Linked DNA regions of Homo sapiens. The protein of the gene in region 1 interacts with the protein of each later gene in a pairwise test. Each region holds a gene or a part of one and is shown on either strand. Other genes may lie near its edges. The genes, in order: MTG1, KRT37, STX2 and ERICH1.

What was found.
Region 2: the proteins of MTG1 (region 1) and KRT37 interact in binary tests that used the Homo sapiens proteins (3 or more experiments, as listed by UniProt).
Region 3: the proteins of MTG1 (region 1) and STX2 interact in binary tests that used the Homo sapiens proteins (3 or more experiments, as listed by UniProt).
Region 4: the proteins of MTG1 (region 1) and ERICH1 interact in binary tests that used the Homo sapiens proteins (3 or more experiments, as listed by UniProt).

What each region holds. Positions count from the first base shown.
Region 1 is NC_000010.11:133,389,553-133,397,166, reverse strand, and holds the start of MTG1 (mitochondrial ribosome-associated GTPase 1), read right to left. Parts: upstream 3,011-7,614; 5' UTR 2,947-3,010; coding exon 2,835-2,946; intron 1,455-2,834; coding exon 1,390-1,454; intron 1,005-1,389; coding exon 900-1,004; intron 1-899. Other genes in the region: PAOX (peroxisomal N(1)-acetyl-spermine/spermidine oxidase), read right to left, coding at 5,712-5,855, 7,420-7,577. UniProt on the Homo sapiens protein: Plays a role in the regulation of the mitochondrial ribosome assembly and of translational activity. Displays mitochondrial GTPase activity.
Region 2 is NC_000017.11:41,421,578-41,428,984, forward strand, and holds the start of KRT37 (keratin, type I cuticular Ha7), read right to left. Parts: upstream 3,009-7,407; 5' UTR 2,947-3,008; coding exon 2,455-2,946; intron 2,268-2,454; coding exon 2,185-2,267; intron 1,358-2,184; coding exon 1,201-1,357; intron 858-1,200; coding exon 696-857; intron 618-695; coding exon 492-617; intron 11-491; coding exon 1-10.
Region 3 is NC_000012.12:130,794,238-130,801,260, forward strand, and holds part of STX2 (syntaxin-2), read right to left. Parts: coding exon 6,916-7,023; intron 4,954-6,915; exon of another isoform or gene 4,931-4,953; intron 4,399-4,930; coding exon 4,288-4,398; coding exon of another isoform or gene 4,264-4,287; exon of another isoform or gene 4,153-4,263; intron 3,678-4,152; coding exon of another isoform or gene 3,606-3,677; exon of another isoform or gene 3,523-3,605; intron 1,884-3,522; coding exon 1,803-1,883; 3' UTR 1,758-1,802; intron 1-1,757.
Region 4 is NC_000008.11:714,224-721,246, reverse strand, and holds part of ERICH1 (glutamate-rich protein 1), read left to right. Parts: intron 1-5,239; coding exon 5,240-5,386; intron 5,387-7,023.

The DNA.
Region 1 (7,614 bases):
TGCTATCTAAAAGACAGAGCCAGGTGTACAAGATGGAACATCAAGGCGGACTAGGAGCGTGACCACTGAAGCACAGCATCACAGGGAGACAGTTAAGCCTCCGGATAACTGCGGGCAGGCCTGACTGATGTCAGGTCCTCCACAAGAGGTGGAGGAGTAGAGTCTTCTCTAAACTCCCCTGGGGAAAGGGAGACTCCCTTTCCCGGTCTGCTAAGTAGCGGGTGCTTTTCCTTGACACTGACGCTACCGCTAGACCACAGTCGGCTTGGCAACGGGCGTCTTCCCAGACACTGGCGTTACCGCTAGACCAAGGAGTCCTCTGGTGGCCCTGTCTGGGCATAACAGAAGGCTCACACACTTGTCACGTCTCACTATGTCCCCTCAGCTCCTATCTCTGTATGGCCTGGTTTTTCCTAGGTTATGATTATAGAGCAAGAATTATAATAATATTGGAATGAAGAGTAATTGCTACAAACTAATGATTAGTAATATTCATATACAATCATATCTATGACCTATATCTAGTATAACTATTCTTATTTCATATGTTTTATTACACTGGAAAAGCTCGTGTCCTCGGTCTCTTGCCTCGGCACCTGGGTGGCTTGCTGCCCACAATGCGCACTCACTGACCACTCGGGCTCTGGCAGCACAACCTGGCCACTTCCCACAGGAGACGTGCACTCCCTGGGTGTCCAGGTCACGAACCACACATTAGATGGGGGCACGCCATATGAGAAACGATGCTGGCACGCTTCTGCAAAGCAAAGGGCTGTTTCTAAAGCAGAGCCTGCCTGGGCAAACTGACAAGTGTGCGTCCGGCAACTCTTCCGTTAGAACAAGCGACCTCGGGAAAACACAGCCACACTGCTGAAGGCGTCTGAGAGAAAGGCCTTTACCTGCTGCTCTGTAAGATCCGCCAAGTCCATCTTGTTGAGGACCAGCAAGTGAGGCTTAAGCCCAAGGGTTTCCTGAAACAGAGGGTTGCGGCCTGAAAGTGGGATGTGGCAAAATTAAGGTAAAAATTCCTCCAAAGCTTTACCAGCCAACCAACTTTTTTTCTTGCCATCAGTGAACGAATCATCACATCCTGCCAATTCATTCCTCAAGTACAGGAGAAAAGCCCCAGTTGGCAGGAACATTTAAACAGTTTCATAGCCCATCTAGAGGATTCCACTGCTGCACCGTACCGTCAGGCTTGAGTGACGCAGATATATGTATTAACAATGAAGTTTCAAAGACACGCAGTCTGGACCCCACATCACAGATTCTGATTAACTGGTCTAGAAAGGGGCCTCGCAATTCATATTTTTAAAAGCCTCCCCAGGTAATTCTAATGTGTAATATGACTTCAGGCAGAGGGGCCTCCCCTGCTCTGTGAAAGGATATCCGGGCATCGTGGACCTCGATGATACAGTCCACCAGCTTCAGGCTGCTCTGCATCTTCTTCAGCCCTGGAAAACAGAAGGACGCCTCAGCGAAGGGGCTCACAACCTTTCTAGAGTGATCGATTCAAGCTGAACCGTCCAGAATGACACGCCACCATAAATAACCTAAAAAGACTATATCTGAGGGAAGCGTACTAAGTAATGGTAACAGATAACATCCGCTGAGCGCCTCCTCCAAGGTCCGCACCCTCGGAGTGGGAGACTGGGAGGCACCCTGCCACAGGGTGGGCCATGTGTCAAAAGCCAGATGCGGTCTTCACCACCTGACTCATGGCTGACTCTGGGTGGAATATTTAACGTGCATGGGTCGCTTTTTTGTTTTCTGAGACGGAGTCTTGCTCTGTCACCCAGGCTGGAGTGCAGTGGCACGATCTCGGCTCACTGCAACCTCCGCCTGCCAGGTTCAAGCAATTCTCCTGCCTCAGCCTCCCGAGTAGCTGGGACTACAGGGACGCGCCACCATGCCGGGCTAATTTTTTGTATTTTTAGTAGAGACACGGTTTCACCATGCTGGCCAGGATAGTCTCGATGTCCTGACCTCGTGATCTGCCCACCTCGGCCTCCCAAAGTACTGGGATTACAAGCGTGAGCCACCGGGCCGGGCCCTTCCACGGGTCTTAATCTGGGCTATAACACAGAGTAACACTGGCTCATTAGGCCCCTGCTACCTCGCGGGGATGATGACGATAGTCCCCTAACCAGGAATACCACACACAACCAAGATAACAAAGCTTCCAGCTTTCTTCCCCTCCAGTGTTATCCGAAGACCGAGGACACAGCCTCAGTCACCCACACGGGCCCTTCTTCCCCCTCGGCCCCCAGTACACGCGGAGCCGACGCAGGAGTGGCCATCACAACACCTAGACGGGCTGGGCTGGCCCCAGAGGTCTTCTTGGGGCCGAATTGTGACAAACAGTAAGAATTACCAAAGACGTTAAGCAGGAGAACGACTCAAGATACCAGTTAAAACTGAACAGGTGCCTTCATACCCACTGTTTCATTTAGTCCCCAAAAGACTCAGAAAAGTCTATCTTGTCAAGAACATGTGGAAACGGAGGCTTCGGGGGATTAAAAGGGCAGAAGGAACTTGCTGGGAACAGAGGACAGGGGCGGCGGGCCAGAGGTAGGAGGTCAAGCAGGCCCTGGGTCCGAGGCTGCGCCGCGGGGGCACTCGCGGGAACGGGCCTCTCCCGCAGCTGCGCAGGGGAAGGGGTCCCGGCGGCTCCGGGAGCGGGTGAGAGCGGGGAAGGAGGGGAGACAAGGGAGGAGGGGCGGGGCCAGCCCAGAACGACCGGGAGAAGCAGGCGACGGCCGAAACCGGGGTGGGAGGGAAGCAGAGGCGCCGCGGCCGTAGGCATGACCTTGCCCCTCCCCGCCGTGCCTCACCCTTGGCCATGTGGCCCGGGAACCAGCGCGCCACGTCGCGACCGCACAGGGGGAAGTTCTCCCGCCAGGCGGCCTGGGCGGCGCTGCACAGCGCGCGCGGGGTCAATCTCATGGCGGCACCGTCCCCGGAAACGCTCCCGCAGCTGACCTCCTCTGCGCCGCTGCGACCCGCCTCTGAGGTTCCGGCGCTGCGGGCCTCCGGCACTGCGGGCTTCCGGCGCTCCAAGGGGCCGCACCACGGCCTGCGCGTGCGCACGACGTTGCCTCCGCCTCCGGCGAAGCCCGGAGTGGGCGGGGCCCGGGCCCAGAGGGAGGGACGAATGGTGGGTCGAGCGTCGGGGCGGGACTGCGAGGAGACCCGGGGGGACGGGGAGGTTCCTGGGTTTTGTGGGTTTAAGTAATTCGCAGATTTATTAACATTCATTAAATATTAAAAATCATCGTTCTCCCTTAAGCATATCCTGAGTATAAGTGTAAAAATTTAGCAATCTCTTTTTACAATTTGGTTAAAATCTCTCAAATACTTTAAATTTACCTTATAAATGTAATCTCTTCATTTTCTTTTTAAGTACTTCAGGGTTTTTGTTTGTTTTGTTTTGTTTGAGACGGAGTCTCCGCTCTGTTGCCCAAGAGTGCAGTGGCACGATCTCGCTCATTGCAACCTCCAACTCCTGAGTTCAAGGGATTCTCCCACCTCAGCCTCCGGAGTAGCTGGGATTACTGGCGCCTGCCACCACGCCGGCTGATTTTGTATTTTTAGTAGAGATGGAGTTCCACCATGTTGGCCAGGCTGGTCTCCAACTCCTGACCTCAAGTGATCTACCTGTCTCGGCCTCCCAAAATGCTGGGATTACAGGCATGAGCCACCGCGCGCAGCCTCAAGTACTTCAGGGTTTAATATAACAAACTGTTTCCAAATACTGACTGCAGTTCTGCTAAATTAAACCGATTAATTAATGAGGCTGAAATATTCTCCACTGTCCAAGACTAGACATAAATATAGTCGGATTTCAACTCTAAATCAGCAGTCAGCAACTGCTCAATTGCACACTGCGTTACAAGAGTATTACTCTACCGGAATTTTTATTTTTGAGACGGAGTCTCGCTCTGTCGCCAGGCTGGAGTGCAGTGGCGTGATCTTGGCTCACTGCAACCTCCGCCTCCCGGGGTTCAAGCAGTTCTCCTGCCTTAGCCTCCTGAGTAGCTGGGACTACAGGTGCGCACCACCACGCCCGGCTACTTTTTTTGTATTTTTAGTAGAGATGGGGTTTCACCATGTTGGCCAGGCTAGTCTCGAACTCTGACCTCAGGTGATCTGCCCACCTCAGCCTCCCAAAGTGCTGGAATTACAGGCATGAGCCATGGCACCCAGCCTCTACTGGAATTTTTTAAACAAGCTACTGAAAATACCAAACATGCTCAAATTCTAAGTACAAAAATATTGCCATGGTTCTGATGTTCTTAAACCACCTAATACCCTAACGCCTAGCTGTAAATATTTTTGGGCATGAGAGAGTGGCCCCTCCGTGGAAGACAGAAGCCTCCCAGGTGGTTTCTGGGCTGAGTGGGGGCAGTCAGGGCCTCCTGCTAGGTCAATGCCCCCAAGCCCCCTCCTCACCAAGCCGGTCCCTCACACCCAGAGGGGGCAGCCTGGGTCTTGCTGCCTTTCTCCCTGGGATACAGAATTGATGAAACCCTAAATGTCAATGATAAAGATTTTTGTACTTTAAGGAAGCTGCATTCCCTCATGGTCCTAGGAGCACAAAACCACAATAAAACCCTGTGGAATCTGAATTTCTCTCCCAGGCGTCTGATGGGCAGGTGTCCCCAGAGAGAACAGTCTGGTGACACAGCAAATGCAGGTGGGGCTGCTGGCTACAGAGGGAGGCTGGGGCTCGGGAGGGTGGGGTCAGGGAACATCCTAGGAGGGGCAATTTGAACAGAGACCAGAGGGTGAGAAGAGAGGAGCCCTGCAGATCCAGGCTGGGGTGGAGGGGCCGGAGAGGGGCCTGGACTCCCAGCACATTCACCCCAATACCACGTGGTACCCCAGCACTGCCCACACCCCAACATCCCCCGGCACCCAGCACACTCACCCCAACACCCCCCAGCACCCAACACTACCCACACCCCAACACCCCCCAGCACCCCAGCACTGCCCCCACCCCAACACCCCCCAGCACCCAGCACACTCACCCCAGCACTGCCCACGCCCCACACACTCCCTGGCTCCCATGGGCTGGGCACCGTTTCTCTTTTCAGGCCTTATTATGTATTCACTTCCTCCAGAAAACCCCCGGCCTCAGGGCAGGGCAGGGCACCCCTCATCTCCCCAGTGCCCTGCGAACCTGTGAAGTGGGCGCCTGATGCAGCATCAGTTGATGAGCAAGAGGAGGGTTGTCAGCTATGCTGTCATCCCAGGCAGCAGCCACGAGAATGCAGGGGCACGAGAAGCAACTACAGGACCCAGAGTTCAGGGAACCCAGAGTGTGGGGCCATGTGTGGTTGTGGGGATTGGAGACACAGGGCCCTGTGCAACCTGGGCCCGGAGCAAGACAAAGACAACAGCAGCAGATGCTGGAGCCCCAAGGCAGGAAGGACAGGACAGCCTCAAGGCAGGAAAGATGGCTCTGGGAGCTGTGGCTGTAACTTGCTTTATGTGTCCAGCATCTCCGTGAGCATCTGGTGTCTCAGCTCAAGTCAACCCTGGCCAGACTCCAATAACAGACACAAGAACTGAGAAGGTGGCCCTGGTTACCAAAAACCAGAGGACCCTCATTAACATCCCCAAATTTCAAGCCAGACTGAAATCTGTCAGAAGAAATGAGGGTCCCAGCCTACCCCCGACACGGGTGGAACAGAGTAGGCTGGGCCCAGCTAGAGCCTGGGCCTGGGCTGCTGCACCTGCGGGGCCCACAGACTGAGGAGGCGGTCGGCCTCCCTCCATCCCGACAGCAGAGCCCCGTGCGTCGTGGAGTAAAACGTGCGATGTGTGGCTTCCCCCGCAAACAGGATCTGGAGCTGCAAAGAAGAGCCAGGGTTAGAATGGGGATGCAATTCAGACAGCAGGGTCTGGGCAAGGAAACACAGAAAATGGCTCACAAGCATCCACCAAGAAGCAGGAAAACAGCTCACACACCTCCACCAACGGACGAGAAAAGGGCTCACGTGTACCCACCAATAGCCAGGAAAACAGCTCACACACATCCACCAACGGGCAGGAAAACAGCTCACATGTATCCATCAACAGCCAGGAAAACGGCTCACACGCATCCACCAACGGGCGGGAAAACGGCTCACACGCATCCACCAACGGGCGGGAAAACGGCTCACACGCATCCACCAACGGGTGGGAAGACGGCTCACACGCATCCACCAATGGGTGGGAAAGGAAGCCACTGCACCCCGCAGCTCAGGTGTGAACAGCTTTTAGAGAAAACAAGGGGTGTAAACACTGAATAGTGATCTGGCCTCAACTCCTGGATCACATATGGGGAGGGTGGGGGAGGGATCTGGGAGTCGGGTGGGCAGAGGAAGAAAGCTACAGCCTTATCTGATGTAATGAGAAGTCAATTAGTAACACCTGAAACTGAAAACTCAAGAAGCAACATTTCCAAGCAGGTTCACTGAAGAGAGACCATGAGCTGATTGGAAAACTGAACAGTGACTAAATATTGGATCATATTGAGGAATGATTATTAATTTTTAAGTGGGTAAATGGTATCATAGTTATATGGTTTTATTTTTATGTTTTCTGAGACAGAGTCTTGCTCTGACACCCAGGCTGGAGTCCAGTGGTGCAGTCATAGCTTACTCCAGCCTCAACTTCCTGGGCCCAAGCCTGAGCAGCTGGGACTACAGGTGCATGCTACCATGCCTGGCTACTTGTGTGTGTGTGTGTGTGTGTGTGTGTGTGTGTGTGGAGACCGACTCTCACTATGTTGCCCAGGCTGGTCTCGAACTCTTGGCCTCAGCAAACCTCCTGCCTAGGCCTCCCAAAGCACTAGGATTACAGGTGTGAGCCACTGCCCTCAGCATCATAGTTAAGTATTTTACAAGGATGTCTTTATCTTTTAGAAACAGGCACCAAAATATCCTGAGGTGAGACAATGTCCTGTGTGAGTCATGCTTAATAAAAAAGGGCGGGGGTGGGCGGGGAGAAGCTTGGCTTAGGGGAAGCCTGGTGGGCACTGAAAGGTTCTCCCTACTTTAGTATGTTTGACATTTTGCACAGGAAATGTATCTCAAAACGTGGTAGCAGAAACATGTTTTTAGAGATGCAGTAAACTTAGCGATGAGAATCAGCTGGGAGCACCGTCTGAGAAGGGCAAAAGGGGCTCCACCTGCCATTTTGGTTTTATTTTCTTTTGTTAGCACTGCAGAATTCTCTGACTTTTTAAGCTGTGTGTGTATAATTCTCACAAAAACAGTACATTTAAAAATTATTCTTAGTTTCAAAAAGAAAATGGCTTCCGAGTCTGGGATCCCAGCCCACCCGCCACTGGCTGGTGCTCCTGCAGCGCCCAGACTCGGCGGGGGCCTCTGCAGCGGGACCCACGCCCCCCGACTGGGGCACGCCACATACCTGGGCGCCGGCGCCGTCTGCAGGGAGGGGCTGAGCCAGCAGGTCCAGGTCGCCCCCAGTACTGCCCACGGCCACGTAGCTGTAGGACCCCCTAGTGTACGGGGCGCTGTGCCAGCGAGACCGCAGGACGCTCTTGGGCGCGGGGAGCCGTGGGTTTCCTGAGCCACAGAGACACTGCATGTTAACCGAGAACTC
Region 2 (7,407 bases), on another chromosome or scaffold:
GACAGTCCTTCTGTAATGGGAAATAATGGGGTAAGAGATCCAGGTGCCCCAAAACTCAGCAGTGAAAATCATGACCAAACTCATCACACATAGGGCAAATTCCAAAATGTCATAGGACATTCTCAGAGCTCTGGAGAAATCACTGTCAACATGACCATGACTTCTCTCTCATGCACACAAATCTAACTTAAGGAACTGTCATGTTCATCCCTGTATCCCCAGTGCTTGACAAAAAGCAGGCACCTCGTAAAATCTTGTGGAGTGAGTGCCTGAACTTCCGCACTGTGTTGTAAAGGAAGTGGACTTGATTTTCTGAAGAAACCATTTCCCTGGGTCACACTGAACTTGACAGCAAGACGTCTCCATCGGGTATAGAGGACCCCAGATCTTGACTTAATGTTGAAGGAACTGATTTGTGAGACTTTAAGAGATGCTACTACCAGGACATGGCATGGGGCATTTGCAGTGCAGTGAGGGTGAAGGACACGTACCAAGGTGTGCTGGGCTTGGCGCTCCACCTCCAGGGCATTCACCGTGCATCTCAGCTCCAGGATCTCCGACTGGCAGCACTGCAGCTCCTCGGAGCAGGACATGGCCTGCAGGCTGATGCCTTCAGACTGGAGCACAGAGAAACACAGTCACCTCCCTGCTCAGATGGAGGCCAGGTACTCCCTGGCTCTGTAACCCCCACTCACCTGGGCTTGGAACCACTGTTCCACATCCTGGTGGTTGGTCTCCACCATGGCCTCGTACTGAGCCCGCATCTCCCCCAACACCCTGTTCAGGTCAATGGTGGGCTCAATGTCCAGCTCGATCCGGAACTTCTCCCCCAGCTGACTCCTCAGAATCTTTACTTCCTGCAGAAATGGAAGCGATAGACAGCCTGCGTAAGGAAACGGCCTTTGATGGAGCAGACAGCACCAGGACTCCGTCCCTGGCAAGCAGTAGGAGGGGAGTCCCACACATAAGCAAATGGGAAAGTCTTGTCCAGAGTGCATTTGGGAGAGCCCACCTGGACACCTTCCTCATGCCCAAGGCAAGTCTGCACTTTCCACAGAGGCCCTCTGGACCCTCAGACCCACCTCAGCCCTGCATCCTTAGGCCAGCTGAGCCCAGGCAATGCTCTGAGAGCCCCAGGGCCGGGGAGCTCCCCTGTCTGCCCAGCGCCCTCCCCAGGAGTCTGAGCAGCCAGGGCCACACCTGCTCGTGGTTGCTCTTGAGGGAGAGCTGCTCCTCCTTCAGGGACTCCTGCTGGGCCTCCAGGTCGGCCTTGGCCAGGGTCGCGTCATCCAGGAGCTTCTGCGTCCCGCACTTGTCCGCCTCCACCAGCTGGTGAAGGGAGCGCTCACTCTCCAGCCTTCCGTCACAGGAGGCACAGGGTCAAAAAGAATGCCCCAATAGCCCCTCTCAGCTGCCCTGGCTTCCTACCTCCCACACCACCTTGGATCCTTATTTGTTCACGTGGGCAGTATACACTATTCTCAACCCTGCAGCGACACGGTTTGTAGTCAGGACATTATGCCCATTGACCAGATGGAAGACTGAGGCTCAGAAACAAAACACGAGTTGTTCAGAATTCCATGCCCAGTTAATAGTAAATGCATGGACTCATCCTAAGTGTTCTGACTTCAAATGCAGCATTTATTCTGCCATAATAGGAGTCATTTGGCCAGGAAAAAGAATGGCTAAAAATAAGCCTCTGGACCTTCAGTTTGCTGCTTTTCCTCTTGGATTCATTATTTCTCGTTGTTTTCTTGCTTTTCCCCTTCATTCAAGCACAACTCTAGCTACCAAGGAGCTTCAATGACAATTCCTCCAGCTGATGGATTTGGCCAAGAGTCAGAGAGTCTAGCAACAACCTATGCATTGACAGTTTATTTTTGTGATGACTCAATTTTACTTCTGATTGAAAAGCAAAATCCTCTTATCTTCTAGATATGGGAGAAAGTGACATAGGTTCTAACCAATCTAGACTACAGCCCTTCTTTTTCTTTCAATGCTTATATTCTCTTTCCTCCTATATAATGACCATTTCTAGCAACAGGCTAATTTAAGGTGTGGAGAGAAATATTCTTCTAGTCAAAAACTGTTTTTGAACACCTACAATATAGACTGAGTAATGGGGCGGGCCCTTGGAAATACAGCAGGAGAGAAGTCACACTGACCCTCCTCATCCTGACTTACTTGATCCTAAAGTCATCAGCAGCCAGCTTCGCGTTGTCAATTTGTACAATCAGCCTGGCATTCTCAGCCTTGCTGCACAGGATCTGAGGAAAACGGAAAGACGGTTCACACACAAAGCACCATACTCTAAGCTCCCACTCCATGTGTGGTATTTACGCTCATGTCCAAGAGAAACCAAGAACCCAAAGCTCTCTGGACCTTATGCAGATTCCTCCTGCGAAGGCTTCTGCCTTCTCAGACCCAGCATGCCCAGGCGATCCCACACCTCACCTTCTGCTGGAGCTCCTCGATTGTACGGAAGTAGGACTGGTAGTCGGGGCACACGGTGGACTCGTGGCACTTGCTCCTCTCGAGGAGTGTGGTCTCCAGCTCTGCATTCTCCTGCTCCAGCTGGCGCACCTTCTCCAGGTAGTTGGCCAGGCGGTCATTCAGGAACTTCATGGTCTCCTTCTCATGGCCATTCAGGGTGTTTTTGCCGTAGGCCCCACAGATTCCGATGTTGCCGGGAATGTGACAGGTCCCTGGCAAGGGACAAGCAGTGTGACTGGTTGGGGGCAGACAGAGGCTGGGGCGGCCCAGGGGAGTCGACCCCACACGGACTCTGTTGGCGTGTGCCACGTTGGCCAAGAGGCACATGGAGGCAGCATTGGCCTCTGCCACAGGCTGGCACCCAACATCGATAGGAGAGACAAAGACATTTCTTGCTCCAGGAGCCATGGTGCAACCCAGAGGGCATGAGGAGGTGCTGTAGAAGGAGGTCATGGTGTAGGGCTGAGGCTGCACAGGAGCTTCAGATCAGCTGGGAAGGCTGAGCCACTGAGACTGAAGCCTCCTCTCCTCCCAACCCTTTTATACCCCATCCTGGGCGGGTGTTGGCTCCAGTGCTTTGACCTCCTGCCTTGATTATCTACCTGTTGTGGTGCCATCATCCTGTTACTCAGCTGCTGAGTTTACCATGAGAAGTTCCTCAGCTCATTAAAGCAATGTTGACAAATCTGAGATGCCTCTTGGCTCTTCCATATCAGGTTAGCTGTTGGTGGGAAGTCAGAGACTCACTGTTTCTGCTCAACAAACACCAGCAGTTGATTCAGGCCCCAATTGCTCTCTCTGGACTATGGTCTCTGTGGATGTGGTCACAATGAAGGCTCAAATCTTTCCGTCAGTAATTTGTGTAGCAGGAGACACAGAGAACCAATGGGACCCACTGGATCTTTCGCCTGTGCAAGACTGAATCAGCCTTTCCTTTGAAGAGAAAATATCAGTTAATAAAACCAATGCATCTACTGATATTTGACGATTGAGAGGCGCCTTTTTTTCTTTCTTCTTTCACATTGCATACTCCCTTGAGAAGCAATAACATCTGGAAGCAATGGCGCTAATTAAGTTTTGGTTGACTAGTCAGAATCAGCTATTCATTCATTTGTTCATTCATTCATTGGTTCAGCATGCTTCCTGAATATCCCCCATAACTCAGGCAGTGTGCTGGTTCCTGGACACGCAATGTTCCCTGTTCATCAGGAGTAAACAATGCCTCTGAAATCTCTGGATGTTCTACACAAACTTGAATGAGAACCATAGATCAACAAGAGTTAGTGAAAGACAGAGGATCTATAGTTCTGGCCAAGGAAGTATCTAGAAAGAAATCACTAACAAAGAAAAATCTTATTTGATCCAGGAAAGGGAGATTGGGCACAGAGCTCAAGCAGTATTCAAATGAAAGGTCCAGAACTAACATTGATTGAGTACTTAGGTGTGCTAGGCATTCTACTGTGTTCTTTCCTATCTAACCCTTACCACCTATGAGGTGGTTACTCATTGCCTCAATGTACAGATGAGAAAACTAGAGTGAAGTACATTTGCACATTTTCTGATTGACAGTTAGTGAACTGGCAAAGGCTCGATTCAGTCTCATGTCTGCTAGGCCCATTCTCTTTTCACTTCATCATGGCCCCCGGTGAGAACAACGGTGTCATTGCCCCGTCAGTGCTGGGCCTAAGGAGAGGGCAAGAAGGGGCTTAGTTACTGGATGAGAAATTGTGGTGAAAAGAAAATTACTGAAGGTCTTTGTGTTCCAGCAAAGGAAAAGATTTAAATACTATGGCAGTGACAACAAGAAAATGCACTTTAAAAAGTTAAACTAGGCCGGGCGCGGTGGCTCACGCCTGTAATCCCTGTACTTTGGGAGGCCAAGGCAGGCGGATCACCTGAGGTCAGGAGTTCGAGACCAGCATGAACAACATGGAGAAAACCGGTCTCTACTAAAAATATAAAATTAGCCGGGCATGGTGGTACATGCCTGTAATCCCAGCTACTCAGGAGGCTGAGGAGGAGAATTGCTTGAACCCGGGAGGCGGAGGTTTCCGTGAGCCAAGATTGCGCCATTGCACTCCAGCCTGAGCAACAAGATTGACACTTTGTCTCAAAAAAGAAAAAAAAAGTTACGCTAGTTTGTAACATATGCATCATTTAAGACAGGGTGCGTCCTGAGAAATGCGTCGTTAAGAGATTTCTTCACTGTGGAAACATTATAGGGGGAACTCACACAAACCTAGATGGTAGAGCCTACTACACACCTAGACTGTATAGCACAGCCTATAGCACCTGGCTACAAACCTGTACAGCATGTTGCTGTACTGAGTATCATAGGCAACTATTATTAACACGATAATATTTGTGTATCTAAACATAGAAAAGGTAATGCATTGCACTACGACATTATAACCACTTCCACATCACTAGAGAATAGGAATTTTCAGCATCATTATAATCTTGTGGGACCACCGCCCGTATATGTGGTCTGTCGTTGACAGAAACATTCTGACTGTATATCCCAAATCCCAGAGATTTCCAGTAGAGCTGGAAAACAAGTCAACCAATGGGGGTGTGGCCAGGAGTCATCCCTCCCAAGTGGTAGAGGGAAACCAGAAGGACCATGGGACAAGCTCTAAAAGAGTATAAATAAACTCTTTAAAAAAAAAAAAATCCCAATTAGTGGGAAAGTAAATGGCTGATACTAGTAGCAAAACCTTAAGTCTTTGAAATTGACATACTGGAAATGAGCCATTATTAAGATTTTAAATGAAAATAATAGGATTTAGACATAAAATAGGAAGCAAAATACAGTAAACAGAAATCGTGTAGCCAAATATGCATCAAATATGCATTCCCTTCAGCTACACTTTTTTCCTCTGAAATACAAGTTTTAGAAAATCTTAGAAGAGGGGTGGGCGCAGGACTTAATGCTGGGAAGCAACAACTTTGGGGCTGAATTTACTTGAATGGATTACAAATTGCATTGTTACACAGCTAAAAAAAACTTTATGTATGAAAAATGATAATAGCCTTACACTGAGTACAAATAATACTTAAAAGCATGTGAAGATGTGAGCATCTGTGATGTTACTTATAAAAAAAAAGTTTAGGTTTTTTTCCGTAAGTTATTGGGGTACAGGTGGTATTTTTTCCATAAGTGGTGGGGTTTTTTTCCATAAGTATTGGGGCACAGGTGGGTTACGTGAGTAAGTTCTTTGGTGGTGATTTGTGAGATTTTGGTGCACCCATCAGCCAAGCAGTATACACTGCATCCTATTTGTAGTCTTTTATCCCTCACCCGCTCCCTTCCCCCGAAGTCCTCAAAGTCCATTGTATCATTCTTATGCCTTTGCATCCTCATAGCTTAGCTCCCACATATCAGTGACAATATATGATGTTTGGTTTTCCATTCCTGAGTTACTTCACTTAGAATAATAGTCTCCAATCTCATCCAGGTCACTACAAGTGCCATTAATTCATCCTTTTTATGGCTGAGTAGTATTTCATCATATATATGTACCACAGTTTCTTTTTTTTTTTTTTTGAGATAGAGCTTCACTCTTGTAACCCAGGCTGGAGTGCAGTGGCACCATCTCGGCTCACTGCAACCTCCACCTCCCAGGTTCAAGAGATTCTCCTGCCTCAGCTTCCCGAGTAGCTGGGATTACAGGTGCCACCACCATGCCCAGCTAATTTTTGTATTTTTAGTAAAGAAGGTGTTTCGCCATGTTGGCCAGGCTGGTCTTGAACTCCTGACCTCAGGTGATCCACCCGCCTTGGCCTCCCAAAGTGCTGGGATTACAGGTGTGAGCCACTGTGCCCAGCCCACAGTGTCTTTATCCACTCACTGATGGATGGGCATTTGGGTTGGTTCTGTGATTTTGCAATTGTGAATTGTGCTGCTACAAATGTGTGTGTGCAAGTATCTTTTTAGCATAATGACTTCTTTTCCTCTGAGTAGATACCCAGTAGTGGGATTGTTGGATCAAATGATAGTTCTACTTTTAGTTCTTTAAGGAATCTCCACACTGTTTTCCATAGTGGCTGTACTAGTTTACGTTCCCACCAGCCATGTAGAAGTGTCCCCTGATCACCACATCCACTCCAACATCTATTGTTTTTTTATTTTTTTGATTATGGCCATTCTTGCAGGAGCAAGGTCGTATCGCATTGTGATTTCGATTTGCATTTCCCTGATCATTAGTGATGTTGAGCATTTTTTTAAAGTTTATATATGTATCTTTTGAAGTATTGAAAGGAAACTAGTACTTTATATTCTTTATCATATCATGTTTTATAATTGTTGAATATGTTCCTGTTTATTTTTCTCTGTCCTGTTGTGTAGCCTTAAGAAGTGTTTCAAAAAAAAAACCAAACATATCTGAATGTATAAAATAAGAGTAAATGCCCTACAAGTTATGATGCCACATTATACATAAAACTGTGTGCATATATTTTTAAACAGCATAAATACATCTTTGCTCTGAGAAAAAGTTGAACATGCATCCCCGTGAAAACCACAAGGGAGTCAGGGGATGATGGTGTTGATGAAACCTGGGCTCTTGGAATTCTCTCAAGGAGAAATAAGGGGTCTGGAATTCTTCCCAAGAGGAAAACCCACTGTGGGTCAGCTGTGGCTCCAGCGGCCCTGAGGTCAGCTATGACTCATTCTTTACTGGGGCAATCCTTAGAGGGCCTCTCCCTGCCAGGCCATCCCTCAGAGGCCTCTGGGTGCAATCTGCATTTTCCATCTTCAAAGACCCCTTTGTTCCTATCTTCCGCCTCAACACATAGCATCACTATAATCCAGAGAATTGAAGCATTAAAATTCTTCCCTTTGATTTGCTAAATAGGAACCCTCTCTTGACCCTATCCTCTGGCAGGATTTTATCCCATTGGCTAAAATCATGG
Region 3 (7,023 bases), on another chromosome or scaffold:
ATTTTCAGCAAAGCTAAGAAGAAAAAAATAGAACATCTTGCCTAATAAACATCCTACACAAACATCCTGCCTAATAAAAATAGACGGTAAGAGAGTTCTGACTGCCAAATAATGGAATGTTAACACACGCAGCATCCCAGAGCTCCTTACAGAGTAATTTCAGGTGTAATTTTGTGGCTTTTGCATAAATGTCAGAAGACTAACTGGAAAACTTCTCATCTGGTAACTGCATGGTGAGCGTAACAGATGCTCACATTAAGATATCAATCTCTTGTTTTGAGATGGTCTCGCTCTGTCACCCAGGCTGGAGTGCCGTGGTGCGATCTAGACTCACTCTAGCCTCGACCTCCCCAGGCTCAGGTGATCCTCCTGCCTCGGCCTCTGGCGTAGCTGGGACTATAGGCACGTGTGCCACCATGCCCAATTAGTTTTTGGATTTTTTTTTTTCTGTAGAGACAGGGTGTTGCCATGTTGAAGGAATAAATCTTAAAGATTACAAAGCAATAGTGAGACTTAACCATGCTCGTGATTCCTTTCTGCTGTATGTTAACTTTTTAAAAAGCCTTGGGTGACTATCAAGTCTGCAGTCACTTCCATAACCCAAGAATAAATTCATTGGGGATGACTTGCCACACTCTAGACACCTGGGAACAGTTCACAACTGTCTAATACAAGAATTGTGCCAAACATTTACAGAGAAATCACTGCTGTGTCCACCTGTAACACACCGACAGCATTGCCACTTCAGGGCCAGTGCAAGGATGGCTCCCAATGCAGAAGAAAACCAGGGGGAAACCACAAAGCCTGCTGAAGTTTAGGAAAGGTGACACTCACACCTTGATTCTTTAAATAAACTGATACCTTTTATATTCAGAATTCTTTAAGAATTAACAGGCATGCTAACTAAATATAATACGTAATTTTCCTTTTAATATTAAAGGAAATATTTTTAAATAAAATAGATGCTGCCTATAGAAAGGTCGAAGGATGTTCCTTTCAGTCAATGTTTTTCTCAGCGTTCATCCATGCCCTCGATTCCATAGTAAAATGATGCGTTAGTGTATTTTATAAAGTACCTTTCAGTGTTGCAATTACTCTAAAAGCTAAAACTCAGGAGACAAAACATTACAACTGAGAATTAATCTTCACTGAATTTCTATGACATTTAATGAAGGATCCACTACATGTAAAGAGCTAATGGTCTTAGATCAAAAACAAAAGATTCAGGCTGAGTACAGTGGCTCATGTCTATGTATAATCCCAGCACTTTGGGAGGCTGAGGGCCAGGAATTCGAGACCAGCCTGGGCAATACAGAGAGTTCTCGTCTCTACTAAAAATAATTTTTTTAAAAATTAGCCGAGTGTGCTGGTGCACGTCTGTAGTCCCAGCTACTCGGGAGGCTGAGGTAGGAGGACAGTTTTAGCCCAGGAGGTCGAGGCTGCAGTGAGCCATGATCACGCCACTGCATTCCAGCCTGGGTGACACAGCTAGACCCTGTCTCAAAAACACTTTTAAAAACGGGATAAGAAGGTGACCTTGGTTTAAAAATGAGTTACCGCCCAGCCTGTGCTTGTTCTCAGTAAACACAGTGGCTGGGCACTCGAATCAGCACACAGGCAGATGTATCACTAGATGGCATTATCTGTACTGCGTGGCTGGCAAGCTTTTATTAGTTTTATGTCTATTACAATTAAGCAAATACTATTATTGGTTAATTGCAAAAGTTAATAAGTAAATTAGTTGATGAGTTACTTACTCCCACCCTGGCAGAGAGGCATGCACACTGACGTTATCCACACCATCATTTGCCAACTGACAAGCCAATAATTAGAGCGATTATGGCAACCAGAACCACTGACACAGCAATAATTATCCACTTTTTCTGTCAAAGAAAAGCAAGCTGATTATATCATGCATGGTTAATTTCATATTGCCACATTAAAAGACATCCTTCATTTAAAATAAAACGACCTGGCCAGGTGTGGTGGCTCACGCCTGTAATCTCAGCACTTTGGGAGTCCGAGGCGGATGGATCACCTGAGGTCAGGAGTTTGAGACCAGCCTGGCCAACATGGCGAAACCCTGTCTCTACTAAAAATACAAAAACCAGCCGGGCGTGGGTCTGCAATCCCAGCTACTCAGGAGGCTGTGGCAGGAGAATCACTTGAACCCAGGAGGCAGAGGTTGCAGAGAGCCAGGATCGTGTCACTGCACTCCAGCCTGGGCAACAGAGCAAGACTCCATCTCAAAAAAATAAAATAAAATAAAGCAAAACAACCCATCAGAACTCACTTTAGAAGCTAAGTTACAGGACACTGCTTAATACTGTTGGGCGACTTCTTGAGAGAGTGACTTAATAAGGTCAGACTACTTGGCGATAAGCTGCTATGTAACTGTTATTTCAGGTTTCATCCATGGGGACAGCACGACCAAGTCATTTTGCCACATTTCTGATGACTGAGACATGCAGTTAGTTTTCCGCATGTACAGAGGTGCGGGCCTGCTAGCTCAGTGACGGAGAGCCCCACTGCCTCGTCATGAAGCCCCGACACACTCAGTACTTGGCCTTTCGCTCCTTCTTTTATGTTCTTGGCAGTTACTTCTTCACTGCTCCTGACATAGCACACAGAAAAAAAAAACCCTTCTACAAACGTTGCCTGGCCTCCCTCTGAGGGCCACATGGCTCCGCGGGAATAAATGCAGGACACTAGGAGTGGGGACGACCCACACCTGAGCCAGGGGCAGCAGCAAAGCATTTGAGCGGCAAGGGGACAGGGAGACAAGCCAGGAGGGTTCCATTAGCAGGCATCTCATCAAAAAGACAGTGTCATTTCTGAAACAGGCATCACGTCTCTGACGAGTTTATACGCCAGCTACCGCACAGACCCCAAGCACCTCACAGAGCCAGGCTTGCTCATCCACAGAGGAGAATGAAAACGTATCACACCCACCACCTTCCCCCTTTGTAAAACCAACGAACTTTCACTATCGTTTTCACCAGACTGACGTGTTCAGGTCATGGAGAAAAGGAACAGGACTGCCTGTTTTTAATGAAAGCTGACTTAGGCCTGGAACTAAGTTAAGCACTTTATACAGGTATCTCTTCACCTCAGTTTACATTAGGGGCCAATTTTTTCAAAGCAATAAATGAAATAACATGAGAAACCATGTCTGGCATTTCAGAGATGACGAGCATACTTAGACATACCCAGGAAAAGCGGAGGGTGTGCCCTGGCGGCTGAGCCTGCAGCCCGGGGGTGTGAGTGAGGGTGTGCCCTGGCGGCTGAGCCTGCAGCCCGGGGGTGCGTCTCAGGGCCATCGCCTGGAGGTGCATCCACACACACCGTCTCACTCCATTTTTTCCTAACACGGTGAAAATCAGCATCTCTGTGTATTAGCACAAGGAGGTGACAATGTGAAAAACCCATAATCTCTCCAGTGTCAGGGGCACTATCATAAAATGCCTAAGTTAGGAGAGTAAGTTTTAAATTTTTGCCCCGTAACAAAAAAATCACACAGGGTTCCCTGAACCCTTTTTAATGCAAAGTCTGTGCATCTTGAGTGAAAGGGGTTCCCTTCTTTTGAGGATCCCTTTAAGTGGGTGCTACCTAAGACTGCAGGTCCACGGTCTCAAATAATTCTCTTCTTTCCTCCAAACCAAGAAGTCACGAATAACCTAAATTAAAAATAAATGTTCACTGCATCAAATGTGTAGCCAACAATTTGGTGCCAGGCACCGTGCCTCACGCCTGTAATCCCAGCACTTTGGAAGGCCGAGATGGGCGGATCACTTGAGGTCACGAGTTCAAGACCAGCCTGGCCAACATGGTGAAACCCTCTCTCTACTGAAAATACAAAATTAGCCTGGCATGGTGGCGGGTGCCTGTAATCCCTGCTACTCAGGAGACTGAGGCAGGAGAATCACTTGAACCCGGGAGGTGGAGGTTGCAGTGAGCCAAGATCACTCCATTGCACTCTACTAGCCTGGGCAACAAGAGCGAAACTCCAATTCAAAAAAAAAAAAAAAAAAGTGCTGGGATTACAGGCGTGCCACCACACCCAGCCCTAGGGTTTCAATTACTTAGAACACAAAAGATGAACTACAAATAATTCATCTAATAAACCTTTTAAATTTTTAGCAAAAAAAATTATTTCCATTTTAAAATAAAACATTTATTAATTAATTATTTCTTGGAATACCTTTTAGGCAGGCTTACATCAATGTATTACAACTTGAAACCAAATGAAGAGAAAAACGCAGCTTAATTCTTCGAAGCCAAACTCACCCTTCTTGCCTTGCTCTGATATTTGATAGCTTTTTTTGTTTCTTCTTTAGCGTGTTCTACATAGTCTGTGGCATTCATAACATTTCTTTCTATGTTGTTGATCATTTCACCCTTAAAACAAAAAGTTTCAAACTTAGAAGACATTTTCAAATGGCTTAATCATGTATCTTTAAGACAACCATAGAACAAAGGTTTTATATAAACACGATGTGCATGTAATGGATACTGAGGGTTTTTTTCACATTTACAGAAAGATAAAAGATGAGGCCATTATACATGTGCCAGTGCAAAGCAATCAAAACTCAATTTATATTTTAAAAAGAATGAAAAGGAATGGGCCACCATGTTGATAATTAAAGGCACCTCAAGTCAATTCTGAGATACCTTTAACACGCAGACACTTTCGACAGATGGGCAGGGTGAAGGGAGGCAGCCAGCTTTTGGTTGAACTAGTATTTTACCATTATGCACAGACAGACAATATACAAAGAATGACATCTTTTCCACAAAGTAGAAAATTGTAACTACTTCTTTAAATCAGTAAACTGAGCATAGCTCACATCTGACACTCAGCTGACTACATTAATGAGCAAAATGTAAACAGAGGTGAATTCAGCAAAGTGTGAGGGAGGTAACGTATTACCTGGTTGTCTGTCCAGACACAACCTGCAGCAGTGAATCGTAAAGCATTGAAGAATGACGGAGAGTTAACTCACTCAGTCACAAACTTCAACTTACTAGTAATCTCTGACTATGCACACATTTGCATTAGATGAGTCAATATAATGCAATACCAACAGACTTCTAAAAGGAAACAGTGAAACAAAGCCAGGGATGCAGCCATTTTTCTAACGGAGCTTAATGCAATGCATTTGGTATAGAGCAATTACAATTGAAGTCTAAGGTACTACAAAAGCTTTAGTAATTACAGAAATCATCTCTCGTTCTTTCTGTCCAGCTGGTTTCCTTTGGAATGCTTCCTGGAAATAAGTAACCAATGGTAATCAGACTCCCCACACTCCACTTACCATATAATGAATGGCAACGGGGCCCCCAAAATCAAAAAGGAGTAAGATCGTCCCATCCCTGCCCTCTGTGTAGCTGTTGGTTTCCTCTAGCAAATGCTTATACATACAAACATTAGCCGGGCGTAGTGGTGCAAACCTGTGGTCCCAGCTACTCGGGAGGCTGAGGTAGGAGAACTGCTTGAGCCCAGGAGGCAGAGGTTGCAGTGAGCCAAGATTGTACCACTGCACTCCAACCTGGGCAACAGAGCAAGACCCTGTCTCAAAAAAAAAAAAAAAAATAGGCATGGTGCCTGAGTTTTTCACACACATTCTCATTATAAAGTTCTTCAAAATACAGTGTTTCTTAACAAGGTTGCTGAAGCAGGCAGGAACAATCCTGTGTGTGGATGGATTCCTATCCTTACACAATCCAGGCAGTCTCAGAAAATAAGCCCATCAGATGTGAACCTACTTAGGGGATGACTCCAGCCAAAACAGATCCGAAACCAGGCTCAGGACAAGTGAGGAAACCATTTACTTAGGATGGTTTGATATAAATGCTTCCGCTTCACCTGGTGGTCAGCTGAATCCTAACCAGCAACAGAGTCTTATCTCCATGGTATTTGAAAAATAACGAGAAGACCTTATTCAAAGACAAAGAGCGAGTGTGAACATACCCATGCACATCACAGAGCATGTGATCTGTGATCCATCCCGTACTTTACATGGAGAGTTCAATATATACATACATACATATATATGTGTGTATTTTTTTTTTTTTTTTTTGGAGACAGGGTCTCACTCTGTCACCCAGGCTGGAGTGTAGTGGCATGATCATAGCTCACCACAGCCTTGAACTCATGGGCATAAACAATCCTCCCACCTCAGCCTCCCAGAGGAGTTTTCTATTTATTAAGAATTGCATTAACTCTTCGGTTCACTCAGAAGGGCCTTTCCACACCTGCTTTCACTCCCTATCTGTGTTACTGGGCAGATGGGAAACCCCGTGTAACAGGCACAAGCTTGCATCTGTGTCATAGATTGTATCCCCACTTGGGGTTGATTCTTTCAGACATTTCTCCTAGTTATTACTGTAATATATGCTTCTTATAGAAAATCTGAAAATAAATACTTTTAGAGAAGATTAAAATTCCCATAGTCTCACTGCCATTACACTGTTTGATATACGCCTTTCCTTCTGTGGATACTGTTTTATGGAGCCAAGCTCGTGCCATGTGTTTGTGTTTATGTACTCATACATATGTACGGGCATACACAGAAGATCTTTGTATCTCCCTTTTCTCTTAATTCTAGCACAAACATCTGCATATTTCAGTAAGAATTCTCCATGAACAAAGTTTAGGTTGCCTATGGTTGCCTAAAAGGCTGACCTATGAACACTCCATAATTTAATCAACTGAACCAGTCCCTTCCTGTTAACAGTTCAACTGTTAAAGCTGCTTCCAGCATTTCAGCATCACATATAACACTGCAATTAACCTGAATTTGGTGGATCCAAAATAACAGCTTTCCTAGATACATCCACTAGACAGAGTGGGATGCAGTAAGATTTTACACATGACTGATATCTCTCTTGGAGAATGCAAGAGTCTGTAACTACCTGAGTCTCCACAAACATAGCCATGTCCATGAACATCTCATGCAACTCTCGGATGCTGGTCTCCAGCTTCATGATGTCCTTGTGACGTGACTCGATTTCATTGAGAGC
Region 4 (7,023 bases), on another chromosome or scaffold:
TTATTATTTCTATTTTAGCAGCTGTAAATATTTAGACATATTATTTGTCAGCAAAGTTATTTTTAGATACCTGGATATTTGTATTAAACTGAGTTAAAATTTATTATAATTCTTGTTGAAGAAAAAATCTCCCGCTTTATAATGAGATATCCATTTTGACATCTATTTGAGATCATCTGTTTTTGTGCCTGTTTACAGGACACTTTATGAGTAATTCATGGGTCATGGATAATATGACACAAAACCAGCCTTTGCCAATATTTAATATCAAAATCATGCTGTAACTCCTGTGAGTGAAGCATTGTGCGGGACGTGCTCGTCTTTTCTGTGACAAGGCTTACCAGAAGTAGCAGGGGTCAGAGTGGCTTCAGGCTCATTCCAGCGAAGGAGCAGATACGGTGACCTCCAGGAGTGTGTGGGCCACTGGGAAAGACGTTTTCCTTCACTAGGTTCTAGAACACCCATGCAACATGGAGCCCCTTCAGCCATAGGGATTCATGATACTTAAACCAGTTTAGCTTAGGCTGCTGAAAGGTTTTCTTTTTGCTTTAGTTTATTTTGACGACCGTGCTCAAGTTTGAATTTGAAAAGGGACATTGTCTTTCCCGTGGCTGTAAACTGTACAGACCTTTATGTGTTGACCGTCGTGAATTAGCACATCCAAATCCCTACGGCCTTCTTCCCACTCCCACCCTCCATATGAAAACTCGGGATTTAAACGTTAAGGACTAAAATTGTATACTAAAATTGTATTGTTTGCTTAAGATTTTTAAGCAGCCTGTTTTCCTGCATTCTTAAGTAGTTGCATGCTCTTCCTGGCATCCTGATTATCCCAGTTATCAGCTTTGTTATCCTGTGTGTCTGTGGCTGACACTGGCGCGGTGCCAGCATGCGTCCTCGTCCTTCATCGTGGGTACCTCAGCGTTCTGCCATCGGTCATGTCCGTGGGTGACGCTGGCGTGGGGCAGGTGTGTTTCCTCGTCCTTCCTCGTGGGCACCTCGGCGTCCTGCCGTTGGTATGTCTGCGCGGCCTGCATTTGCCTCTCAGAGGTCTCATTTGTCTTTGAGGGTGTCCAGGACATTCCTCTTCCTCCAAGTCCTCTTTTGTGCAGAGCAGTCAGTGATTTTCAAGGACTGACATGATGAGATTTTGTGTTCAGAAGACAAGAGGAGCAAGGTGCACGTCTAGGGCCGCGTTCTGCTTTCTAAATGTTGGTCTTCTTGGAGAAGGGGCTGGTTCCAGGCCTAGGCAGAGAAAATACAAGATGAGCCTGCGGTACCTTGTAGGGCCTTGTGTGCTCATGGGAGGGCCGGGTGGGCTGGAGGGCACCAGGTCCATGCTGGAGGGCGCTGGGTCCACACTGCGGTGGACCCTGTGGCCAGTGCTGGGACTATTTGAGCAACAAAGTATATCCGGACAGTACAGGGTGATGGTCCTTGGAACGAATGAAACATCTACGAGTCCTTAAAGTATTAAATAGCACAAAGGTAATAATTCAATACATGTGCAAGTGTGGGCACTTCAGTACAAAATTCCACGTGATAAACATGGAAGGAGTGAGGAAGGAAAGCCACTGAGGAGCCCACAGCGACGTCTGCCACCGCCAGGACCCACCAGCGGATGCCAGAATTAGTGGGTGAGATTGAGGAGGAAAAGGATCTGGTCCCGCGGTGTCTCCTCCACAGTGTTTGTTGGTTATGAAGGAAAGAGAGTCGCTTGGCAGGGAGAAACCCAGCAGACCTCACAGCACCTGCGGGCGACCGCGGGCGTCAGCTGAGAGAAGCATCTCAGCCAGATGTGGGCACCAGCGCCCATCTGCAGTTCTGCAGAAGTGAATGACCTCAGTGTCACCCTGAGAACACTGGACCCAAGTTACTGCAGTTCCAAAAAATAACTGCCCCAAGAGATGTCATGATGGTGGAGTACAAGGAAAATGGGAGAAAAGTGAGGCATGGAGGGTGGATGGGGCAGGATCGGAGCCTGGTCGATGTGGGAGCCCGCTGTTGGATGACGGCTCAAACAGCCAGGGCTGGGGTGGGGCAGAAACCCAAGTTTTCACGGTTGAAACGGCCTCCCTGAGCCTCGCCAGGCCTGGGGCTTTCGTGTGGCAAAGCCCCGAGGGTCGGGCTCTCAGCCCAGGCAGTGGCCCCAGGGCCTGGGCTCCCGGTGGGAGGTGAGTCTGGGACCTGCCTAGGTGGTCTATGGGGAAGCTCCTCAGGAGGGTGTTGGGACATTGGCATGTGCACTGACAAACCGCACAACACACCTGGGTACAGATGGGAGCGCACAGAGAAGCCGCACAATGCACAACACACCAGGGTACAGATTGGAGTGCAATGACAAACCGCACAACACATGGGTCTGCATGGTTCTGGGAACCACCCCTCTCGAATCTGCTCGTGTGGCACCTGAGCAGGCGTGCAGGGGAATTGCAGAAATCCTAGAGGCTGAAGACCCAGAGGCCTTGGGGTTCTGTGGTCCCTGCACGCTGTGCCAGCAGATTGATTCCTGGCTTTCAGGTCGTGAGGCTGGGATCACGTAAATCTCTTCCGAGAGAAATGCCTGTGTTACAGAAGGCGGAGCTTGTGACTCCCAGGGTGGCCTCTGCCATGTCAGTTATCCCTGAGAAACCCCTGTCAGCTGTCACTCTGAATTTAAAGCCAGCTGACTTTACATTGTTCCCGCCTTCTACTTCCATTTTAGAATTTTTATAAAGATTCGAAATGTACTGTACACCTATATCAGATATTTTCATTTGAAACATGAAATTTAACAGTGTTGGTGGAAAACCACTGTTAATTAGGCTATAAATGTAATTTATTTCAGGCAGTGGATGGAATTCAGTGAAAATGCTCCCTACCTTTCTTTTTTTTTAAGGCACATTCTTATTATGTCGCTTTTAGCTCCGAAATCTGCCTCAGGAAGCCTTGAAAGACCGTGACCTGGGGCCAGACTCAGTGCGCTCCAATCCGTACCCTGGTGTGTTGTGCGGTTTCTCCGTGCACTCCGATCCATACCCTGGTGTGTTGTGCGGTTTGTCATTGCACTCCAATCTGTACCCTGGTGTGTTGTGCGTTGTGCGGTTTCTCCGTGCGCTCCGATCTGTACCCTGGTGTGTTGTGCAGTTTGTCAGTGCACTCCAATCTGTACCCTGGTGTGTTGTGCGGTTTCTCAGTGCGCTCTGATCCAAACGCTGATGTGTTGTGCCGTTTCTCAGTGCGCTCCGATCCTTACCCTGGCGTGTTCTGCCATTTTCTTTGGGATCAGCTGCCTTGTTTCAGAAAACTCTGTCATCTGATGCTTGCTTGGGCCCAGCGTCTCCTGGCGGTGGCTGTTTAGTCAGGGCCTGCCCTGGCCTGCCCCCGTCCCTGGGACTGTCTTGTGCCTGCCCAGCCTCAGGCGTTCTGCAGCATTGCCTGGCTCTGACCATGGCCTGGGATTTCTCCATAGCATTTTCCTGGCTCCAGACACTCGCAGGCAGCTGTGCCTGGGGAGGCGACTTCAGCCACATGTCCGCGTTGGCTGCCCCAGGCCCAGCAAGGCTTTAGCTCTGAGCGCCCCTGTCCTTGTTTGCAGAATTGGACGGCTGGTTATGGTTTTGTCTTAGAATTTGTTTTGGCTTATGAAGATGTTGGATAAAGTGCATCTTATCTGCCTACCATCTCCTCTGCTCATCACCAGCTTGGTCATCTGGCACAGGACATTTTCTTCTTTGACATTTGAAGGAAATGTGACCATTGGATTTTTATCTGAAGTCTTGGAACCTTCTTTTGAACATACCTGGGAGCACTGCAGCACATTTTTAAAAGCATTTCACAGACCACCTGTTGCTCCCTGAGAGCCAAGGTGTCTCCGCCGGGCAGGTATGCTTGAGGCAAGGCCTTTCTGTAGGGGTGGGACCCGCTCACCACAGCCAGCAGGAGCTTTTGAGGTATCCTGTGCTAGTGCACTTCTGCATCATATTCAAAATATAGCGTATGGGGACCCTCTCATTGCCAGGACCTGGTGAAGAGCCCGGGGTCTCAGGGATCACATCGTTTCAGTTCAGGTTTTCCACTTAACCAGAGGTCGTTTCCTCCCAGCAAAAGCAGGCTTTGTGCTCACTCTCTGGGAGCCGCGGAGGTGGAGAGTCTGAGTGAGCAGCCACCTTGTTCATGACCACACTGCACCTCACTCCCACTGAGCTCTGTGCTCAGGGTTTTCATGGTCCATCCACGGAGGGCACGGGGAGCTCTGGTGAGCGTTGCGTGGAAACCCACATAGTGTTCTTAACAGCGGGGCCTGTAGGAGGGTTATTTCTATCACGTGTTTGTCCCAGAGGCCAGAATTAGGAAGGATTTGTGCCTTCAGCTACAGTGTTCCCAGGTAGGGCCGTGGAGCCTCCCTGCCTCGCCTAGAAGCCACCCCCAGCGTCTCCTCTCAGGGGGCCTATGACAGATCCCTGCACGCCTCCAGTCAGGCCAAGTCCCTGCCTCCCTGTTCCTAAAGGCACCAGGCAGTTGTTTCAGGAGTGCTGATTTCCACTGTGCGACTTTTGGTTATTCCAAAGCAGCTGCCTGTTTATTAACCACACTTAAATCAGGGCAGAAATATTTATTCATTATGACCGTTTGTCCCACAGTTTAAACAACGTAAACTAAAACAAGCAAAGTAAAGAATCTCTGTTTAGTCGTTAAACCACGTCAGATGCACGGAATTCTCCCCATTCGCAGTTGTTGACACGTTCAGTTTAAGGGAGAGAGTGCAGACCGTGGGTTCCCAGAGGGCGCGGGGTGGTGCCTGCCCTGCCTCAGGGCCCGCCAGACCTGCTCCATTCACTCACCTGGCTCCAAGCACTGTGGGCCACTGACACCGTCCACCCAGGACCACAGCCCCCACTGACAGGGGTCATGGCCTGCATGTGCCTGAACCTCACAGGGAGGAACCGAGGGACCTGCAGCCAGAGGCAGCACCTGCCAGCAGTGCACAGCCTCCTGGATGCAGGGTGATGCCCTGGAGAGAGGGTCAGCTGATGGCAGGATGGTGGGGGGTCCTCGGGCCAGCCTCAAGGGTTCCTCTGCGGGCAGAGTCTGGGGGATCCTGGTGTGCAGTGCCCAGCGTGGGAGGACCAGGGACTTGGGTCTCCGTTGGTGCTTTCAGGATGTGTGTGTTTGTGTAGAGTAAAAGTCACGTGTGATTCAGATAAACTGCATAATTCATTCCTTTTCCTCCTTTTCTTTTAATCGGTTGTCTGTACAGTGTTTGTGGAGAAGGTGCTGCAGAGACTTTTTCCTCCTGTTCCAAGTGGCCAAGGAAAGAGGGAACCCCAGACGCTGGCCGTCCAAAATCCACCAAAGAAAGTGACCTCTGAGAAAGTGAGCCAGAAACATGCTGAGCCTTTGACAGGTGAGTTTGTCTGCAGATGTGGGTGGGTCTCAGAAACTGAAGTTAACCTCCGTCATCATCACTTGCCTTGGAGAATGTGTCTTTTGGGCCTCGGGCATCTGTCTGCAGGTCTGCAGAGGGCCTGCAGCAGGTGGGCAGGGCAGGCATCGCTCTCCACACAAGCTCTGCCAAGGCCCCTGTGGACTCCCCAGCCAAGGCCAGGTCAGGGTGCTGCCTTTTTGGGGTCATTTACTTGTGTGCTCTGAAGATGGCGATTGGACTGAAACTGGGGCTTGGGCCAGCCTTCCTGTCCTCTGAGGAAGACAGGCGCCTTCCCCACCATACACCATGCCCCCAGTCACTGTGGTGGCCCCCTTGGCCCCGTTGGCTTGTGCCCACTCAGGGACAGGCTTCTGAGGTTCTTGTCCCGTGGTCTTTGGCAGACGTCTGTCCCATGACAGCCCCATGTTAAGCTCTTGGTGGCTGCAGGATCATCTGCCATGAGAGTCCCATCAGCTCTGGTCCCTGCAGTGCAACTCCGCTCACCTGTGAGACTGTGAGAGGACCCCGCTGAGAGACACGGGAAGAGACCACCTGGGTGCAGCACATCCCACTGAGAGACACGGGAATAGACCACCTGTCTGCGGCACATCCTACTGAGAGACACGAGAAGAGACCACCTGGGTGGACCACATCCCACTGAGAGATGCGGGAAGAGGCCACCTGGGTGCAGCACATCCCACTGAGAGATGTGGGAAGAGACCACCTGGATGTAACACATCCCACTGAGAGACACGGGAATAGACCACCTGGGTGCGGCACATCCCACCGAGAGACACGGGAATAGACCACCTGGGTGTAAGACATCCCACCAAGAGACACGAGAATAGACCGGCTGTGCGCAGCACATCCAACTGAGAGACGTGGGAAGAGAACACCTGGGTGGAGTACATCCCACCGAGAGATGCAGGAAGAGGTCACCTCTGTGCAGCACATCCCACCGAGAGACACGGGAATAGACCACCTATGTACAGCACATCCTACTGAGAGACGTGGGATGAGAACATCTGGGTGCAGCACATCCCACCGAGAGATGCCGGAAGAGGCCGCCTGGGTGCAGCACATCCCACCGAGAGATGCCGGAAGAGGCCGCCTGGGTGCAGCACATCCCACCGAGAGATGCCGGAAGAGGCCGCCTGGGTGCAGCACATCCCACCGAGAGATGCCGGAAGAGGCCGCCTGGGTGCAGCACATCCCACCGAGAGATGCGGGAAGAGGCCGCCTGGGTGCAGCACATCCCACCGAGAGATGCCGGAAGAGGCCGCCTGGGTGCAGCACATCCCACCGAGAGATGCGGGAAGAGGCCGCCTGGGTGCAGCACATCCCACCGAGAGATGCCGGAAGAGGCCGCCTGGGTGCAGCACATCCCACCGAGAGATGCGGGAAGAGGCCGCCTGGGTGCAGCACATCCCACCGAGAGATGCGGGAAGAGGCCGCCTGGGTGCAGCACATCCCACCGAGAGATGCCGGAAGAGGCCGCCTGGGTGCAGCACATCCCACCGAGAGATGCCGGAAGAGGCCGCCTGGGTGCAGCACATCCCACCGAGAGATGCCGGAAGAGGCCGCCTGGGTGCAGCACATCCCACCGAGAGATGCCG